5 linked regions of the Homo sapiens genome follow. The protein of the gene in region 3 purifies or fractionates together with the protein of the main gene of each other region. This does not show direct contact. Each region holds a gene or a part of one and is shown on either strand. Other genes may lie near its edges. The genes, in order: DPY19L4, SLC44A5, OR2G6, KIAA1549 and SLC47A1.

The links.
Region 1: the proteins of OR2G6 (region 3) and DPY19L4 purify together in Homo sapiens (affinity purification with mass spectrometry; one large-scale study listed by BioGRID and IntAct). This does not show direct contact.
Region 2: the proteins of OR2G6 (region 3) and SLC44A5 purify together in Homo sapiens (affinity purification with mass spectrometry; one large-scale study listed by BioGRID and IntAct). This does not show direct contact.
Region 4: the proteins of OR2G6 (region 3) and KIAA1549 purify together in Homo sapiens (affinity purification with mass spectrometry; one large-scale study listed by BioGRID and IntAct). This does not show direct contact.
Region 5: the proteins of OR2G6 (region 3) and SLC47A1 purify together in Homo sapiens (affinity purification with mass spectrometry; one large-scale study listed by BioGRID and IntAct). This does not show direct contact.

The regions. Positions count from the first base shown.
Region 1 is NC_000008.11:94,788,829-94,792,899, forward strand, and holds part of DPY19L4 (probable C-mannosyltransferase DPY19L4), read left to right. Parts: intron 1-917; coding exon 918-1,082; 3' UTR 1,083-4,071. UniProt on the Homo sapiens protein: Probable C-mannosyltransferase that mediates C-mannosylation of tryptophan residues on target proteins.
Region 2 is NC_000001.11:75,209,039-75,213,109, reverse strand, and holds part of SLC44A5 (choline transporter-like protein 5), read left to right. Parts: exon of another isoform or gene 1-1,176; intron 1,177-1,557; coding exon 1,558-1,642; intron 1,643-4,071.
Region 3 is NC_000001.11:248,521,465-248,525,535, forward strand, and holds part of OR2G6 (olfactory receptor 2G6), read left to right. Parts: intron 1-146; 5' UTR 147-182; coding exon 183-1,133; 3' UTR 1,134-4,071. UniProt on the Homo sapiens protein: Odorant receptor.
Region 4 is NC_000007.14:138,971,211-138,975,281, reverse strand, and holds part of KIAA1549 (UPF0606 protein KIAA1549), read left to right. Parts: intron 1-4,071. UniProt on the Homo sapiens protein: May play a role in photoreceptor function.
Region 5 is NC_000017.11:19,553,866-19,557,936, forward strand, and holds part of SLC47A1 (multidrug and toxin extrusion protein 1), read left to right. Parts: intron 1-1,346; coding exon 1,347-1,444; intron 1,445-1,727; coding exon 1,728-1,825; intron 1,826-1,930; coding exon 1,931-2,044; intron 2,045-2,129; coding exon 2,130-2,197; intron 2,198-3,694; exon of another isoform or gene 3,695-3,846; intron 3,847-4,071.

The sequences.
Region 1 (4,071 bases), on a different chromosome or scaffold from region 3:
AGATTTTTTCTGTCTTTTCCTAAATAATCATAGCTCTTTGTCTTATCCAAGATCAGTTTGGAGGTAAGAAATTACTTTTTGTGATTTCTACTTATCTTTTCCTCATGACCCCTTAATCTTGTAATATAAACTTACTCTGTTTTATGGTACATGTATTTTGAATTTCTCTGTTGGTACTTAGTGGCTGTGATCTTTGGTTTACTGGTGACACAAATGGAATTTTATGAAGCCTCGGGTACAGTTTCAGTAATTGGTGCTGTCTTGCTATCTGCTCTCTGAAGCCTTTCTATTCTGCTCTGATACCCACTTTTCTGCTGTTTTGAAGATCAGCTTACTTCTCCTTTCATGTCATGCCTGGCATGGACTTAAGCTAATCCATCCTTTTAAAGTTGGCTATCTGACATCTTTCATAGCCATTAAAATATTACTTAATTTTTTTTATAAAAACTTCTTCAAGCTAACTAAGCTATCTTAGTGAACATCATTCGGTGAAATTGTAAAGGTCTGCACTAAGTCACGAAAGTTTCCTTGCTTACTAAATAATTCTACACGAGAAGAGTGAATATATTTAGGAATATAATATGTTCATTTCTCAGCCTTGGTAGGGTGCATGATAAGGTCTTCGGAGCGATGATAATGGATTATGGAAACACTGCCTTCTAAATTTTAGGATTAAATCTTTTAAAAATTGGAAACCTTTGTGCTGGTTTCTCAGTGTCAATGAGAAGTTCAGGAGTATAGTGGGCATGGTGACTCACTTATGAAGAAGGCTTCTATTTGCTAACAGTGAGATGTTTTATAGACAATGTTTAGCAATAATGTGTTTTTTCATATAAATATACTCATTTGTATATTGATTGCATTTCTGCTATAAGCTTAATAAGCTTTTTAATATTATGTTTTATATCTTTTAATAGATGGTTTGTGAAGAAGGTGACAAGCTAACCTACTCAAAATATGGGCGATTTTGTCATGAGGTCAAAATTAACTATTCTCCATATGTGAATTATTTCACTAGAGTATACTGGAACAGATCCTACTTTGTATATAAAATCAACACTGTGATATCCTTCCAGTCTTGAAAAATAACAGAGCCTTCATTTCAAAGACTACCTGAAGTAAAATGCAGTTTTCTTCTACCTACTCGGTGTCTTTTGCAGATCAGAGTATGGACATTTGAAATATTGCTGCTTCTTTCCCCCTTCTGCTGTTAACTGGATCCAGAGTTCTGTGGGAAATAGAAGATCAAGCATTACTGTCCTTTGATTAAATGTGATATCTACCACTCTGCAATATTCCAGACAGGTGTCTTCCTTACCGTTACATGGTCTTTAACACTTTTACTGATTGCAATATTTTCCCCATAAAATCTTCATTCTATTATAATATTGATCTTGAATTTGAATATGTGCAAGGTCAGATACATTTCTCAAACATAACATTTAATAAATAATGTGATATAATTATTTAATAGAAAGAATAATTCCGACCTTCAAGCAAGTTTCTGAAGGTATTTTATGATGTATAACAACTGAAGTTTTACAATAAAAACTAATTTAAATGTTAGCTGAAGATATGTGGCATTTAAATTAAAATGGAAATTATATAAAGGAAAGTGATTTTTAAGGATATACATAAAGATATATTTAGAATTTTCATGATACTGTTCTCCTCATCTACTGCTTATGTTAAGTGAGAACTTTCTTAGTAATACATAATGCATGATGTTACTGCATTTTCTAAATGACTAGTAAGTGATTAGTTTTTTCACTTATGCCTATTAATTTGATACCAATTTAATCATGATAAAACAATAACCGTTAACATATATTTTGTTAAATGGACATTTAAAAGAATGTTGTTCAGGTTTTTTTTTTAAATACTGATATGGGGCATACAATCTATTCACATGTTTTCTACTGAAGTACTAAGTAAAAAAATTAAATCATTATCAGAATAAAAATATGTGTTCTAAAATTAGCAACAATTTCTGGGGATACATGCAGATGTTGTTAAACGTACCTCTGCATACAGATATATTATAAAACACAAGCAATGTTATTTATGAAACTGTGATGCAGTCTTCAACATCAAGAAAAAATGACAACTATAATAAAATTTACAACACAGTTTCACAGTCTAAATGCTATGTTCCTTTAAGTATTTTCATATTTTTAATCATTTATTAAGAGAAAATTGTGAAAAGTTAATTTGGCCTTATAGAGAGATTCAGGATAGATGTAGCCTATAGATGTGTCATTTTAATAAGTTGGGATACATGTTTAGTTTTTCCTTATATTCCTGTTCAGTGAACAGATTTTCATAATTCTCACTTGTTAAAGTGCTGCAAAAATTGCATTTTCAGTACTCTAAATTACTACATTAGAAGAGAGCATTTCTCCATTGTCTTTATTTTCTGTTATATATGTGTTGTAAAAGTACACTACATTAGAAGGGAGCTTTTCCGTTGTCTTTATTTTCTGTTATACATGTGTTGTTAAAGTACATGCATTCTTAGACTAACTCTCAGATGCTTTGCTCTTTTGGAGCTGAAGAATTGTTTGATGGTGATGTCATATATCTGATAGATTAGTTTCAGTGGTTCTCATTTCACTTTTATACGTAATTTCTTAACTATATTAAGATAGTTGCAGGCAGTGTACCTCAGGTTGACTCTGTACATCTGAATAGTGAGTCACTAGTATTTTGCTTCAAGCCTTCTGAAAATATAACCATAGTTACCTAAGCACACAGTGAATAGTCACATGGTAGTACTTGTGATTAGAGCATGTAAAACAATGTAATTGAAAAGTCAGCTTCCATATTTTGTAGGGGAAATAGAACACCCTACTTTTTATCTAGTGTGAAATATTTAATCGAATTTTTGTTGATTTATATTATGTTACCTGTGCTGAATTAGGTTTGGTACTTGTGTTTTGTTTGACATATTAGTAAGTTGCTTTTGCTTCTTTCTGTCAACTTATTTTTTAAATAAAATTGATCTGGAAAAATTGTTAATGGGATGTTTTAAATAATGAATTTTTCATCCAGCATCAGTTGAAAAGGAAAAGAAAGCTTCATTATGGAAATGACAATATTGAATATGACAGATAAGTTTATTTGCTTCTGTTTTAACTGCAGTTAATAGTACTAGACAACTTTAAGTGGAAAGCATTTAGTTTATTTCTTCACTTATTTGTAGAGTGAACAAATGATTCACAATTCTACAAGTAATTCCACTTAGGTAACTTACAGTTGTTAGGTTTGACAATAAAGATCTACTATGAGAGGAGAAGAATTTATGGGTTTTGGGTGGAAGGAATTTCTCAAAGAAATAAAAAATGTTCTTTGCCCTTGATACTGCAAACCCACTGATACAAGTGCCTTGAATTTATTATTATTATTATTTTTTATTTTTTTGAGATGGAGTTTCACTCTTGTCTCCCAGGCTGGAGTGCAATGGCGCGATCTTGGCTCACTGCAACCTCCGCTCGCTGCAACCTCCGCCTCCCAGGTTCAAGTGATTCTCCTGCCTCAGCCTCCGGAGTAGCTGGGATTACAGGCACCTGCCACCAAGCACGGCTAATTTTTGTATTTTTAGTAGAAACGGGGTTTCGCCATGTTGGCCAGGCTGGTCTCGAACTCCTGACCTCAGATGATCCACTCACCCCAGCCTCCCAAAGTGCTGGGATTACAGACGTGAGCCACTGCGCCCGGCGCAAGTCTTTGTTAAAAGTAGAGATGGAGGCCAGGCGCAGTGGCTCACTCCTGTAATCCCAGCACTTTGGGAGGCTGAGGCAGGCAGATCACGAGGTCAGGAGATCGAGACCATCTTGGCTAACACGGTGAAACCCCGTCTCTACTGAAAATACAAAAAATTAGCCGGGCAGGGTGGCGGGCGCCTGTAGTCCCAGCTACTCCGAGGCTGAAGCAGGAGAATGGCGTCAAGCGGCGAGGCGGAGCTTGCGGTGAGCCGAGATCATGCCGCTGCACTCCAGCCTGGGCAACAGAGCAAGACTCCATCTCAAAAAGAAAAAAAAAGTAGAGATGGGATCTCTAGCCTCCTAAGTT
Region 2 (4,071 bases), about 170 Mb from region 3:
AGCTGACCCATGCCGAAGTTACAGCTGAGGCCTCAGAATTGCAGGACATTCTGGCAAAGAGGCTGGACCTTTGTATGCTGCATCAGGCAGTTTTTGGTCATGAACTGACCCCTGCACGAGGGTATAACTTTGGGTGAGGCAATTCCCTGCAGGAAGGGCAATTGTTAGTAAGGGAAGCAACTGAGTCATTAGCAGCCTAGATTTCCAACAATTGAGGATGGATGAGGCAGTGTAGATCTGGGTGAAGCCCTGCAGTATCTATCATAATATATTAAGTCATTTAACCCACATTTCAAAAATACTGGCATTACTCACATTTGCCTCTCCCCCACTGCCAGTTTTATCTAGGAGACACAGAAAGGATAATTCACTTGTTGAGTGCCTGAGCTGTGATTCAAACCCAGGCAGTATGTGCTCTTAATGCCTAACGCTTTATTGCCTTGGGTACAAGATACTAAAACTGACATATTTTTGCTAAGTACTGGGGGTGGCAGGAAGAAAATGAGCAGGTCATCAATTATAGACTGGATAAAGAAAATGTGGTACAAATACACCATGGAATACTATACAGTCGTGAGAAAGAATGAGATCATGTCCTTTGCAGCAACATGGATGGAGCTGGAGGCTGTTATCCTAAGCAAACTGAAACAGGAAGAGAAAACCAAATGCTGCATGTTCTCACTTATAAGTTGTAGGTAAATATTGAGTACACATAGACACAAAGGGGGAAACAGCAGACACTGGGACCTACTTGAGGGTGGAGGGTAGAAGGAGGGAGAAGATCGAAAAACTACCTATTGGATACTAGGCTTGTTACTTGGGTGATGAAATAATCTGTACACAAAACCCCTATGACACATAATTTACTTATATGACAAACCTGTACACATACCCCTTAACCAAAAATAAAAGTTAAAAAAATAAAAGTTTAAAAAGAATTCAAAAGAATATTTCAGAAATAAAAACACTGGCATCAACTGATTGAAGAGACACAAAATATCATTGGCAAAATCTCTTTGCTTGATACAAAAATTTGTTCTCTCTTTCTTCTAAAGAGCTGGGCATGTGGCAAGAGTCCCTGGATCACTGTGTTGAGAAGGGTTGTTCTGTTATCTGGAACACCTCTTATAAACTGTTATCCGAGGGAGAAATAAACTTCTGTTTTATTAAGAAAAAGAAAGAAAGAAGAAAGGAAGAAAGAGAAAGAGAGAGAGAGAAAGGAAGGAAGGAAGGGAGGAAGGGAAGGAGGGAGGGAGGGAAAAGAAAAGAAAAAAAAGAAAAGAAAAGAAAAGAAAGGGGAAAGGAAGGGAAGGAAGAAAGAAAATAGTACCCCCCAAAAAAGGGAAAAAAAAGGCAGTTAATTTAATAAAACTTGTTTAAGTCTCAGTACAAAGTATGCAGAAGCATTATCATTGAACTTTTTGGTCTCTATACTGAACTCTTTTCCCATACAGAGTACTTCAAAACTTTCTCATCATGGCTTTCATTTATAGCTGCATTATTCTTCTTCTGGTCAAAGTAAATGACATGTTGGTTCTCTTCTTCATCCATTTACAGACAGTCATTTTTGGGTCTTACCTGATTGCACATGGGTTCTTCAGCGTCTATGCAATGTGTGTTGAAACAATTTTCATCTGCTTCTGTGAGTATTCAGTATGTGTGTTTTCCCCCTTCGGTGGATAACTGAAAGGTGAGATGGTGAAGGCCCATGTCCTTAGCTGGCTTGGGGATCTGCTGTTACCTGGCTGCAACCACAAAACGTGTTTATCTGGAAAGAGATATTGCTTAGTAGATGTTATTTAAACCATAATACCTGAGAAATAAGTCAGATGCAGAAAGACAAATACTTCATGATCTCACTTACATGTGGAATCTAAAAATGTCAAACTCATAGAAACAGAGTAGAGGGGTGATGACCAGAGATTGAGGGGTCAGTAAAATAGAGAGATGTTGGTCAAAGGGTACAAACTTTCAGTTATGCAGGATGAATAAATTATGGCACTCACATGTACAGCATGGTGACTATAGTTAATAATACTGTATTGTTAACTTGAAATTTGCTAAGCTCGTTAGTATTCTCACCACACACACACAAAGATAACTATGGGAGGTTATGGACATGTTCATTAGCTTGACTGTGGCAATCATTTTACTATATATGCATATATCAAAACATTACACACCTTAAATATTTACAGTTGTTATTTATTAATTATATCTCAATAAAGTTGGATAAAAAAATTATACCTCAACAAGGCTTAGAGAAAAATACAAAATTTAAAAAGAAATCTTAACAGCTAAGAGAATGGAGTTTGCAAAGCACAGAAGAGTCAACTACTGAAATGAAGCACAGGCTTCATGGCATACTGTTAGCATGAAATTATTTTGTTCATTTCTTGATTTTTTAAGTGAATAATAATGATTGGCTTCTGCCATGCTTTGTTAACAGAACTGAAGACGTAACAGGACTCTGGGAACTAGATATGTGGAATTCTTTGAGGAGAGGATTTATAAATTCTGATAAAGCCAAGATGACAAGGTGGTTTCAAGGACATATAGGGCCAATTCGCACTGTGCATCACAATGACAAATGGATAGGATTCGGAGAGGAGTGCCTCTAGGAAATAGTTGGATTAATTTTGATACATAGAGTTAAAATACTTCTTTAGAGCTTTCATCACTGACTTATACATGATGCTCCTATAGTTGCATATGCAACTCCCATACACAAAATAGGGTTTTCTTTTTTTGGCTAGGCACTGTGGCTCATACCTGTAATCTTAGTGCTTTCAGAGGCCAAGATGGGGAGAACTGCTTGAAGCCCAGCTTGAGACCAGCCTGGGCAACATAGTGAGACCCTATCTCTAGAAAATAAATAAATAAATAAATAAATAAATTAGCCAGGCACGGTAGCACACACCTGTAGTCCTAGCTACCCAGGAGGCTGAGGTGGGAGGATCACCTGGGCCCAGGAGTTCAAGGCTGCAGTGAGCTATGATAGTGCCACTGTATTCCAGCCTGAGTAACAGAGCAAGATCCTGGCTCTGAGAAAAAAAAAAAGATTTTTTTAATATTAGTACCTCACTTGAAAAGTCCTGGAGAACCTAGTACCTAGCAGAAGCTTAATCTGGCTTTCACCTTCCATGCCATTTCTTTGGCAAACCAACAGAAAGTAGAGTCAGTAAGTAAAAGAGCAGAACTTGTTAGCTGCACAACTACACATCCTGAGAGATTATTTCTCTAGCACATTGCCCTTAAGAGAAACAGAGAACATTTACTCTCTGACAGGCCATTACTGAACAATCCACTTGTATAAAATTTACAGTTTGCATTTTAGAATAACCCACAGCACCAACTTCACACTGGGATCAAGAGAGACGATAACTATAGGGAGATATATTCAAAGAAAACCTCCTGGAAAAAAGTCTGGCCTTGTTTTTTGTTTGTTTGTTTCTGAGCCTGTTAAAATCAATTCTCAATAACCGGACAAAGAATTCAAGAGAACTTTATGTACTAGTTAGCTCTTCCTCTGGTTGTAAATGGAAATGAAATGTTTAATGTTTTCCTAGTGCTTCAGTGGTCTAAGGAAAGCCATCTATCTACAAAATATCACATGAACAAACAGTTCAGGTATGGGATGGAAGAAGGAGCACGAGTAAGGTCAAGCACTAAAACATGGTGGACGCAGGGCTCTAGAATGCTCAAAGATCTCTCCTCTCATCTCCAACATTAACCATGGGAGCAATAACTGGAAATCACTATGTGACCTTCCCCATTCTTGTAGCTGAAAATACTTATGAAAATTTGTCTCAGGAAATGTCTAGAACCTACTAGCTTCCAGTCTTTGGAAGTTTTGGCTAATATGTGGATTTTAAGTTTGGCAGTTGATTTTGAATTTTGACAGTAAGAAATGTTTTCCACCATCTTTATTAATTGCCAACTCCTTGAAAGCCAGGTACATCAGCTTGATTCAGTGTATTGCATGTTGACATGAATCATTTCCTTTCAGAGACACTTGTCTGTGATAACAAAGAACAAGGAAACTTAAATTGTGTTTCTCTTCCTCCCCTA
Region 3 (4,071 bases):
CGCCCATGGATTTATGTTGAGGAAAGTTCTATAGGTCTTCACAACATGTTTTAGGTGATATATAAGGAAGATAATTATACTGTAAACGACTGTGGATTACCATTCTTGACCTCATTACTTTCTATCCCCAAATATTAATCACTTAGTATTTGAAGCTGAAGAGTCCTGAAGCTGCAGGAAAAATGGAGGAAACCAACAACAGCTCTGAAAAGGGATTTCTTCTCCTGGGATTTTCAGATCAGCCTCAGCTAGAGAGGTTTCTTTTTGCCATCATTTTGTACTTCTACGTCTTGAGCCTTCTGGGGAACACTGCCCTCATACTAGTATGTTGTCTGGACTCCAGACTCCACACTCCAATGTACTTCTTCCTCAGCAACCTCTCGTGTGTGGACATCTGCTTTACCACCAGTGTTGCCCCACAGTTGCTGGTTACCATGAATAAGAAAGACAAAACCATGAGCTACGGTGGCTGTGTGGCCCAGCTCTATGTGGCCATGGGGTTGGGCTCGTCTGAGTGTATTCTCTTGGCCGTCATGGCTTATGACCGCTATGCTGCTGTCTGCCGGCCACTGCGCTACATAGCCATTATGCACCCCAGGTTCTGTGCGTCTCTGGCCGGTGGAGCATGGCTCAGCGGCCTCATCACCTCCCTAATTCAGTGCTCCCTCACTGTGCAGCTGCCCCTCTGTGGTCATCGCACACTGGATCATATTTTCTGTGAGGTGCCAGTGCTCATCAAACTGGCCTGTGTGGATACGACTTTCAACGAGGCAGAACTCTTTGTGGCCAGTGTAGTCTTTCTAATTGTCCCGGTGTTACTCATCTTAGTCTCCTATGGCTTTATCACTCAAGCTGTGTTAAGGATAAAATCAGCTGCGGGCCGCCAAAAGGCCTTTGGGACCTGTTCGTCTCACCTGGTTGTGGTCATCATTTTCTATGGGACCATCATATTCATGTACCTTCAACCGGCCAATAGGAGATCCAAAAACCAGGGAAAGTTTGTTTCTCTTTTCTATACCATAGTCACCCCACTTTTAAACCCCATTATCTACACTCTGAGAAACAAAGATGTGAAAGGGGCCTTGAGGACCCTGATACTGGGTAGTGCTGCTGGACAAAGCCACAAGGACTAGGAAACACCTGGAATTCTAAACAAGGGAAACACCTCAAGGCAGAGTGAGGGTTCATCCTCCCCAGACATTCCTCTTGTCAATCCCAAAGCCACAGGGACTAGGAAGCATTGGAATTCTAAAGAAGGGAAACACCTCAAGGCAGCGTGAGGATTCATCCTCCCCAGACATTCCTCTTGTCAATCCCAAAGCCACAGGGACTAGGAAGCATTGGAATTCTAAAGAAGAGAAACACACCAAAGCAGCATGAGGGTTCATCCTCCCAGACATTCCTCTTGTCAATCCAAGACCCTGTGTTCTATCTGGAAAAAAATGTTTGTCCTTCATCCACCTGCCATCAAGGTTCATGTATCCATTATTTCCTTCTAATGTGCCAGCCCATCTGATAGACTTCTACTAATGCTTCAAAACTCAGCTGAAATGTCACCTGCACTCACTAGCTGTCCTGAAACACCATCCTTCTCATCCTTGTGCAGAATTAACTGTTTCATAATATGTTTCCATAGCACTTGATCCACACTACCATTTCTACATTTCACATTTGAGATATATGTATACATATATCTCTAACTAGGCAAAGCAATGTATATAACAGACTGAAAAAATACATGACCATTTTCCCAGAATATGTCACTTTTAACTGGAGAATGGAACCATCCCACTCTATTGGCTTATTTACAACACGAGAAACACAAATATTAAGAGTTGTGATGCTTTGGTTCCACAGAATTGTGGGATGCAAATAATGACTAATATTTTATTAAAGGAATCAAATAAGCAAACTTGAATTAAGGAGATTGATTAAAAGTTGAGTAAAATTGCCATATACTAAAATGTGTTTTAACATTTATACAAAATTCATAAAATAAGTTATTGTTTTTGGCCTTAAACTCTGGAAAACAGTTACTTATGTAATTTTATACTTCAAAAATTTGAAATATGAATCCCACACACTGTCTCACGTTAACGATCATAGTTATATGTTTGGTTTCCAAAACAGCAAAAAAAATGAAATATTTAGAAGCATTTTAATAAATGTATTCTTATATTTGACCAAACTTTTACTTTCTGATTTAATTCTGTCTCTATCTCTCTGTGTATCTTTGTGTGTCTCAGCCTCTTTCTTGCTTTCTTTTCCCAAAACGATTGAACTTCATCAATTCGTCAACCTCAAGTATTTTAAGAGAACTGTGCAATTATAGAAAAAAGTGATTTAATCTGTGGTTGTAATTTTACTTCATATTCTCATTATGATACACATGAAAAAAGCATGAAAACATCAATGCAAATGAAGAGTAAAATGCAGGCAGAATCTGGGGTGGAAGTGGAATTTTCAAGTGATTTAGACTTTTCTTTTTTGGACAGGGTCTTGCTCTGTTGCCCAGGCTGGAGTGCAGTGGCTCAATCATGGCTCACTGCAGCCTTGACCTCCTGGGTTTAAGTGATCCCTCTGCCTCAGCCTTCCAACATTCAGATTTATAATAATTCATCCTGGTGTGAGAATATTGTAGCCTGTCTACGAATGTTAAGGATAACGTTTGGACCTGCCTCTCCTACCAAAGCCTGGACTGAAGGCAAAATGGCTGCGCACACAAGAACAAAAAGGCATCAGGAGAATTCACTAATGACTCAGGCTGCCTCTTCACAAATACCCTGTCCAGCTGGCACCTCTTCAATATACTTTTAGCAAACAAAATGATGAATATCCAATTTAACAAAAACGAGGGAAAAGAAGCCTGGTTAAATTTGTCTTCTAGGATATTCTTATGTGATTTTCCTCCTCCAGTAATGGAGAGGAGAGTTGGGAACTGAGCAGAACATGCTGAGGAGCACATGTTTTTATTTACAATATGCAAGTAGAGAAGTAGTTCTACAGGAAGCGTCACATGTACAAATGCATTATTCCTGATAACCCGAGCAACACAGCATAGGAAAGAATGTACCTGTGTCAGAGTCTCAATCAATTTACATGGAATATGGCCCCAGGGCAAAAGATGTGGCATTTAAAGGAAAGAAATAGCTCCAGGTGAAAAGACAACCATGTGTAAAGCAATGATATGAACACAATATGTAGAAAAACCTACATATGAATTGTGAAGCAACCATTTTCAAAGACAAACTCACATCCATTTAAGGTAATATGGAATACAAATCCCACTGAAAATAAAATCAAATTATTACTGTATACAATAAATTCAAACATAATTCAGAAAAAAATAGAATATCTGCTTATTGCTGAAATTAGCATCTTTAGCTGTAAGTTATTTGCACCCAAAAGGAAACCAGAAAATAATAGATATAACATAGGCAAAGCAACCTAAAAAAACTACTTAACTGCAGATGAAAATGGGAACACATTTGAAAATAAAATCCTGTTACTACTTTCTTGAATTTAGAGCTTTCCTATGATATGGATATGTTTATACTGCTTTTATAATCATCATACATGTATAATTTCATACTATTTTTATTTATAATGTGAGCATTTTTCTGATTAATCTAAAAAATATCCACCATTTATTAAAAATCTTCCCTATAATTGAATAACATGAGTAGTTTCTCTTTTTTAAATACCTACATTGAGCATACTTTTGTTTGTGAATGCTTATAATTATGTACTTATAATGTATTTTATAAATACAATTAGTAAATCTAAAACAGGTACACATCAGTCAATTTGCACACATTACTAGCTTGATCTGCAGAACACGTTTTCAAAGGATGCGCCAAGAAAAAAACTATCACTTAGTTAAATGACCATTCAGTATTGCAATTATTTAAAAACTATACAATGAGAATGCTGTAATAAGTATATGGTTCCACCACTCCAAACACCATGAATTTTTTTTAAAAGATATTTTTAAGAAAAAATAAAATGATTTTACATAACAAATATTAATGAATTCATGAAAAACAAAAACCATATAGGACCACAGCTCAG
Region 4 (4,071 bases), on a different chromosome or scaffold from region 3:
CAAGACCCATACTTTGCTTTCTCTTATTCTTTCTCTTTGTCTCTTTCTTTTTTCCATCTCCTTTGTTAGCTTCAGGCAATTACTTCTCATTAGTGAAATTCTAATCTTGTGGTCCCCACACTCTGAGCATCATCACTGCCTCTTAGCTCGCATCATCACTGCCTCCACTGCCTCGTAGCTTGTTAGAAAATGCAGAATCTCAGGGCCCACCCCCGACCTTCTGAATCAGAATCTGCATTTGACAAGATCCCCCTGGTGATTTTGCATGCACAATTGAGGTTTGGGAAGCACTGGGCTAAGAGGTAAAGTGCCTTCTGTTCTAGCCTTCTGGGAATAGGTATTGTTGGAACATTGAAGGCTAAGTCAGCCTGGACTAACTCTGGAGCTATGTAAATCTCCAGAGACCTTGAGAGACACCTGCTTTTGGGACTGAGTCTGTGTAAATAGTGTGCAAGAACCATATTTTATTTGACCAGGCAACTAGATTAGAATTGTCCCCTAGACCTGCTGTTTTCATTCATTGCGAGCATTTGACTGGTTGTAAAAACACTGAGATACAGTCTGGATGTGGTGGCTCACGCTTATAATCCCAGCACTTTGGGAGGCTGAGGCAGGTGGGTCACCTGAGGCCAGGAGTTCGAGACCAGCCTGGCCAACATAGTGAAACCTCGTCTCTACTAAAAACACAAAAAAATAGCCAGGCATGGTAGTGGGTGCCTGTAATCCCAGCTACTCAGGAGGCTGAGGCTTGAACCCGGGAGGCAAAGGTTGCGGTGAGCTGAGATCGCGCCACTGCACTGCAGTCTGGGCAACAAAATGAGACTCTGTCTCAAAAAACAAAACCAAACCACTGAGATACTACCATAGCAGTTGGTAAATAGCTGCTGTACTGAATATTCCTTGCTCCCCACCCCCAAGTACCCTGAGCCTCCCTGCCCTCTTTCAGGACTCTTCTCCCAAGGACCACCGCCACCCTCCACCTCACCGAGATCCAGTGACTGAAGGGTTAATGCTCAGCACAGCAGGTGCCTCAAGGACTCTGCTTTAGTTTTTTGGCTGAAGACCATTCTGGCAGGTTTGAGGTGCTATCTCATTGTGGTTTTAATTTGCATTTCCCTAATGATTAGGGATGCTGAGCAATTTTTCTTTACCTGTTGACCATTTGTGTGTCTCTTTTGAGAAATGTCTGTTCAGATCCTTTACCTGTAAAATTAGAATAGCTCCCTTTCCGACTGTCAGTGCTCGTGCTCCACTGCTGTTAACTGTGTTGACTATCACCTGTACATTCATTCATTGATTTTTAATCTATCCCAGATCCAGTACTTAGAAAAAAAGTTAGGCTGGGTGCGGTGGCTCACGCCTGTGTTCCTAGCACTTTGGAAGCCCAAGGCGGGAGGATTGCTTGAGCTCAGGAGTTTAAGACCAGCCTGGGTAACATAGTGAGACCTTGTTTCTACAAAAGTACAAAAATTAGTTGGGCATGGTGGCATGCACCTGTAGTCTCAGCTATTCGGGAGGCTGAGGCAGGAGGATTGCTTGAGCCCAGCAGGTTGAGGCTGCAGTGGGCTGGGATTGTGCCACTGCACTCCAGCCTGGGTGATAGAGCAAGAACTTAAAACAAAAAAAAAGCTTGTTAAATGTTGTACTTGATGGTAGTTGAAGTCATAGATATGGAAGACACTAGTGAGGGGGGAGCATGGAGAGTTAGTAGACAAGGCAGCTGAGGACAGAAACCCTGAAACTAGCGTGAAGGAGAGGGGAAGACAAAGAGGAGCATACAGAGGAACTGACCATCATGACAAAATAGTGATATGAGAGCCAGGAGAGGAGGAGAGAGTTTTCCTCTAGGTGAGTGATCCATCATGTCAAATGCTACTGTACCAAACTGTTTCTTGAAGGATGGGATGAGGGCCAACTGATCAGAATCACCTGTTAAAAACCCAACTCATGGTCAAGCCAGCTCTACTGAAACAGGTGATGCCTGAGGATTTGTATTTTTGAAATGTTCCACAAGCTCTTTATGTTATTCTTAGGCCTGGTGAGGTTTGAGTTATTCCCTATAACTTAATGGTGGCAGGAGGGTTGGTGGAAGTTTTAAAAACATGTTTTAGACTTGATTGTGTTTGTAGGCTTCAAGAGTCAGTAAAAATACAGTGACTGGGCTGGGCGCGGTGGCTCATGCCTGTAATCCCAGCACTTTGGGAGGCCCAGGCAGGCAGTTCACTTGAGGTTAGGAGTTTGAGACCAGCCTGGCCAACATGGTGAAAACCCGCCATTACTAAAAATACAAAAATTAGCCAGGTGTGGTGGCGGGTGCCTGCAATCCTAGCTATTCGGGGGGCTGAGGCATGAGAATCACTTGAATCTGGGAGGCGGATGTTACAGTGAGCTGAGATTGTGCCACTTTACTCCAGCCTGGGTGACAGAGCGACACTCTATCTCAAAAACAAAACAAAACAAAACAAAAGCAGTGGTTGACAATTTAAGGAAGTAGAAGGAAGGACCTCATGGCTAATTTACCAAAAGTGAGGAGGTTCACCTGGGCAGGCAGGACCACCCTAAGAAGAGTTAGGAAGAAGTAATGTTGGGAGAAGGAATCGGAGGGACTGGTGGAAGGTTGGGAGTGAAGTCCAAGGTAATGGGGGTATCTGTGGTGATGTTAGGGAACCCACCGTGTGATTTTTGTCCTCTAGCACTTGACGTTCCAGTGTGTCTGGGAAAGGTGAGCCATTGGCCCGAGTCAGGGATGGGGAATCACAGGGCAGGTGTGAAGAGCCAAAGGGGATTGAAGGAGCTGGCAAGAGGTGGTCTGGATGAGGTAGGAGGTGAACCGTGGCTGGAGCAGTGGGAAAGGGACTGGGAGGAGGGGGTGCAGCTGAGATCCCAGGGCAGGTGTTGAGAGAGAGGTGGGGGAGGGCGGGAGGGATTGGGGTGTCATTGTGCCGAGTTTCAGAAGTGGGTCATCTCTAGTTTTGGTCTTGGGTAATGAACAGGGTAGGGTGTAGTGGTGGGAATGAGTTGTTGAAGTGGAACATGGAGGAAGGCTTTGGGGTGAATAACTTCTGTGGATGTTGAACTTGCCTGGAGAGAGGAAGAAAGGACTGTGAGCCAGGCACCAGCCCCTCAGTGAGTGAAAGAAAGTTCCCAGAGGACTGTGAATGGGAGGGGAGGAAGTCCGTCTTGAATGTTTCTGCTGTACCATCGCTGCCACCACTGCCCTCATTCAAGCTCCCATCCTCTTTTCTCCAGGTGACTGTCACGACCTCTACTTCTCCTCTCACTTCCTCCAGTTCATCCTCCACCTTCAGCAGGAAGGGCCTGCTAGGAACAGGTCACGTCCCTTCCTCCTTGCTTGACTGTCTGCAGTGGCCCCCATGGTTTTCATTACGCTCCACGTCTGAGTCAAAGCCTGTGTGCTCAGATAGCAGGTGTACAGGGCAGGAGTTGGGTGTCTAGGATGTGGGAAAATGGGCATGGAAGGTGCAGAATATTCCACATATTGGTACTGAAAGGGACCGAGAAGATCTTTCCAGCAAGAGAAGGGAAGTGATGTGATTTGGAGGCTGAGTTTTGCCCTCTCGAGGTTGAGGTCCAGCTGTAAGACGGTTTCTCAACCCTAGGGGGTGGGTTTTGTTGTGACAGCCGCTGACTGGGTAGGACCCAGCCCCTCAGAGGGCCAGCTTCTGCGGCATGAAGGGTGCTGTGTGTGTGCAAGGAGTGAAATAACGTAGGAAGAGGGAGTGGTAAGGTGGAGGCCATCTGTGCAGGTGAGGGCTAGGAAGAAGCCAGTCTGGGGTGGGGTTGGAAAGGGAGGCAGAGAGGGCAGGAGTGAAAGCTCCTGGGGGCTTGGAAGGGATGGGATCTAGGGCAAGAGTGGAGGCATTCATTTGAGAGAGGAGGAAAACAGAAGGAGAAACAGGTGGCTTGTCTGGGGACAGAGATGTATGGGGGAGTATGGGTCTATTGGTGGAGGGTGGGAGGCGAGCAGATCTGGAGAGAGGACAGCAGCGTGGGGGGATCAGGAGCTTGAGCAAACACAACTGGCTTCCAGAGGAGAGTGAGAAGGGATGA
Region 5 (4,071 bases), on a different chromosome or scaffold from region 3:
CCTCTGTGTCATTTCAGAGGACCTTAACCTGTCTCCATCCACTGCCATCTGCCTGAAAAGTAAATCTGATCACTAATTCCCTTGCTACAAACTAACCAGGGCCTCCCCATAAATATGTGGCCTACACAAGTTGTCGGCCAAGACCATTGTCCTGGCCCCATCAGCCTGAGACCACCAGAGACAGGACTGTAGGCCAGTGGGTTTGCAGTTGTGTTTATTGGCCTGTCGCAGTGAGAGAGACTAGAGAGGCTGTGGGATGCCTCAGCAAAGGAAGAAGAGTTATTATAAAGGTTTGAAGAAGGGTGGGGTTCAGGTGACATTTAAGCGAAATCATGGTTTGATAGGCGCTGAGCAGATCTGTGAGTGAGGGGCCCAACATCAGGCCTGGGCTGTGACGTGGACCTGGTGCTCCTCCTTTGGAAACTCAAGGCTAAGAAGGATGTTGAGGGTGGACAGATGTAAAATGCCACATCCAGGAGCTCCCACGAAGCTCTGTGCCTGGGTTGGAAATTGAGGCTACTTTTTTGTGTTAACATGATTTTGAGCCTCCACGCGAGAGTGGGGTGTTTTCTTTTTACTGAAATGATTTCAAACAGCAATGTTTCTGAACAGTCTGATTTTAGACAACAAAGTTTCTCAGTGAGTCAGAAAGCACTCGTCATTCCACTAGGGGAGTAATGACACTTTATGGGGACAGCGTGACCTTGGGAGAAAGGAGGTTTCCTTTTACGTTTGCACTGACTTTATCTGCGTCTGCTATTCTATCCGGATGCGGGGCAGGACAGAGTTTTACTTCCTTGGTCTGATGTAATTTTACTTTCACCCCTGTCTTACTTTGAGACACCAAACAGTCTGGATGTTTCACCAGTCCTGTACTTTTGAAAGTTAGATATGTTGGAATCCCTTCCGTATTCTAGAAAGAAACTCTAGTTTCTTCAAGATCTTAGGTCAATTTTCTGAATTTCTATTTTGGTGAAGAAAGTATTCTCATTTTCTCCTATCGTCCAGTGTCAAAGGTGCCTTGTTGACCCATTTAGCCCCTGCCAGTCCTTGCACTGTTGGAAATAAGCCATTTATCTTCTTCCTTCCCTGCTGCTGAACATATCTTGCCTGTGTCTCTCTGTGGCCAGAACTCCGCACTTTATACCTCAAAGAGAGAAGGAAGAGAAAGGGGTGGGAGAGTGGAAAGGCAGGAGCAACAAGGACATGACCTCCCCAGTTAAGCCCCCCAGCTATGCCTGTGATACCCGCTGAGCAGGCCAGCTGGAGCCTGTGTGTGCTTGGGTAGCAGAAAGGCAGTCCTATTCTGTGGATCTCAAGGATGGCATGCGGTGTCCTTTTTCCAGGGAATTGTACTGCCCCAGATCGTAACTGGAGTTGCAGCCAACCTTGTCAATGCCCTCGCCAACTATCTGTTTCTCCATCAACTGCATCTTGGGGTGATGTGAGTCCAACATACTCTTGGGACAGGGAGAAGGGATGACTTGCATGTGGTTTTTCCAGGAGGGAGAAGAGTGGGCTCTTCAGCTGGTTCTTGTGTCCATGCGTGGTCTCTTTCTTGCACACTGTGGAAAGCACTGTCAGGGATGGAGGGTGAGGCTGCTCTGGGAAGAAGACCTTGGCCTGCTGAGGACAGCACGGGAAGGGATGAGTCTCCCCTCCTCACTGAGTTGGGCAGGGAGAGGCGCAGGAAGGTACCTCCCTCTCATTGGGACTGTTCTTTCCAGAGGCTCTGCACTGGCAAACTTGATTTCCCAGTACACCCTGGCTCTACTCCTCTTTCTCTACATCCTCGGGAAAAAACTGCATCAAGCTACATGGGGAGGTAATGACTGCCCTTTTGTCTTCCAACTGGGATGTGGGTTTTGTCTCAGGTTGAGTTCCAGCCCGATGGCCAGATCTCCTGGAAATGTGTGTGTCCCCCCCACAGGCTGGTCCCTCGAGTGCCTGCAGGACTGGGCCTCCTTCCTCCGCCTGGCCATCCCCAGCATGCTCATGCTGTGCATGGAGTGGTGGGCCTATGAGGTCGGGAGCTTCCTCAGTGGTCTGTATGAGGATGGATGACGGGGACTGGTGGGAACCTGGGGGCCCTGTCTGGGTGCAAGGCGACAGCTGTCTTTCTTCACCAGGCATCCTCGGCATGGTGGAGCTGGGCGCTCAGTCCATCGTGTATGAACTGGCCATCATTGTGTACATGGTAAGCAGGGGAGCCGATCATGGGGAGGTGCCAGGCGTTTTCCTTGCTTGGTATCTGAAAGAGTCTATGGATGAGCACAGGCATTCGTACATGAATCATTTGTGAAATGATGGACAAAAGTCAAATCCCATCCTTGAGCCTGGGAGGGTACCTCTGCTACAGCTGGATCTTCCCTAGGAACTGAAGGGGGGCTGGAGAGAAACTGCACATGATCTGCTGGTTCTCCATCTCCTAACGCAGCTCCCAGCTGAATCTTCCCTTGAAAGATTTGATTTTGTTTCCATACTTTTAGAATCTTTTTCAGTTGTCACAACACAAATGCCTTGAGGGGCCAGGTGGGTGGCATAGCAGAGGGATGAGGCTGGGTGTATGACCATAAACATCAAGCTGCCTGTGTCACTATGCCCGCTCCTGCCTGGTTCTGAAGCCTCTGAAAACACAGTGTGGCTACTGCAAGGTAGATCCCCAAAACAACTGAAAGCAGGGTCTTAAAGGGATTTTTTTTTTTTTTTTGAGATGGAGTCCCACTCTTGTTGCCCTGGCTGGAGTGCAATGGTGTGATCTCGGCTCACTGCAACCTCCGCCTCCCGGGTTCAAGCATTTCTTCTGCCTCAGCCTCCCAAGTAGCTGAGATTACAGGTGCCTGCCACCACGCCCAGCTAATTTTGTATTTTCAGTAGAGACAGGGTTTCACCATGTTGGTCAGCTGGTCTTGAACTCCTGACCTCAGGCGATCTACCCGCCTTGGCCTCTCAAAGTGTTGGGATTACAGGCGTGAGCCACCGCGCCTGACTTGTTAACTGTGTTCACAGGAGCATTATTGACAGTAGACAAAAGGTGGAAGCAACCTATGTGTCTGCGGGTAAATGAAATGGGTTCTATGCATACAGTGGAGTATTATTCAGCCTTAAAAGGGAGGAAATTTTGATCATAGAGAACACTAGTCATTAGGAGGCTTTTCTTTGGCTTTATTTTCCTGAAAACATCAACTGGAGATTCTGAAGGAAGCAAGTACCATTTTAGAAATGTAAAATTAAAAACAAAGGGAGTTTATAATGTGGGGAGAAACTCAAGCCAGCAGATATGCTTGGCATTTTTTGCAGTATTAACACTTAGATTTTTTCCCTCTGATATTGGTTATGTTTTAAAACATAGAGTACACATTTTCTGTTTTGTTTAAGAATTATTCTCTTGCAGACCTATGTTTTTTGTTTTTGTTTTTCTATCCTTGGCAGAGTTTTTTAACATGGATTTTTTACTTCACTTTTAATATTTTATTTACATTTTATATTTGAGTAAATTCATTAACTATATCTAAGTCAAAATGCTTAATGGTATATAGGATTCCACTATATGTGATATACTTTTAAAATCAATTTCCTATGGTTGAATAGTTTATTTCCAATGTTTCAATATTAACAACTCTTCAAGGAACATCCTAGGAAAAAATATCTTCATATACTTGTCTGATTATTTCTTTAAGATTCATAAAAGTGGGCCCAGGGTATGTTCACGGGGCGATGCTGCCCTCCCAGCTGGCCCATGGGTGACCCTGGGAACATTAACTGCCTCACAACGTTTGTGCCTCAGTTACCCGTAGATGTAGTGAGGGTAACAATACTTACTCTCGTTGGTGATAAGGAACAGCTAACACAACACACAGGGTTTTTCTGCTCCCAAAATGGGATTCTTCAGTGCACCAAATCGAAGAAAGCACTGGAGCTCACGCTGGTTTCTCCATTGTTTCTCCTTAACAGTGGAAACTGTAACTTTTGTTCTAGTAGCATCTAGCATGCTCAATAATTATTTGTAAATAAAAGTTATACTTTCCCTCCAAAAAAAAAAAAAAAAAGATTCATAAAAGTGAAACAAAG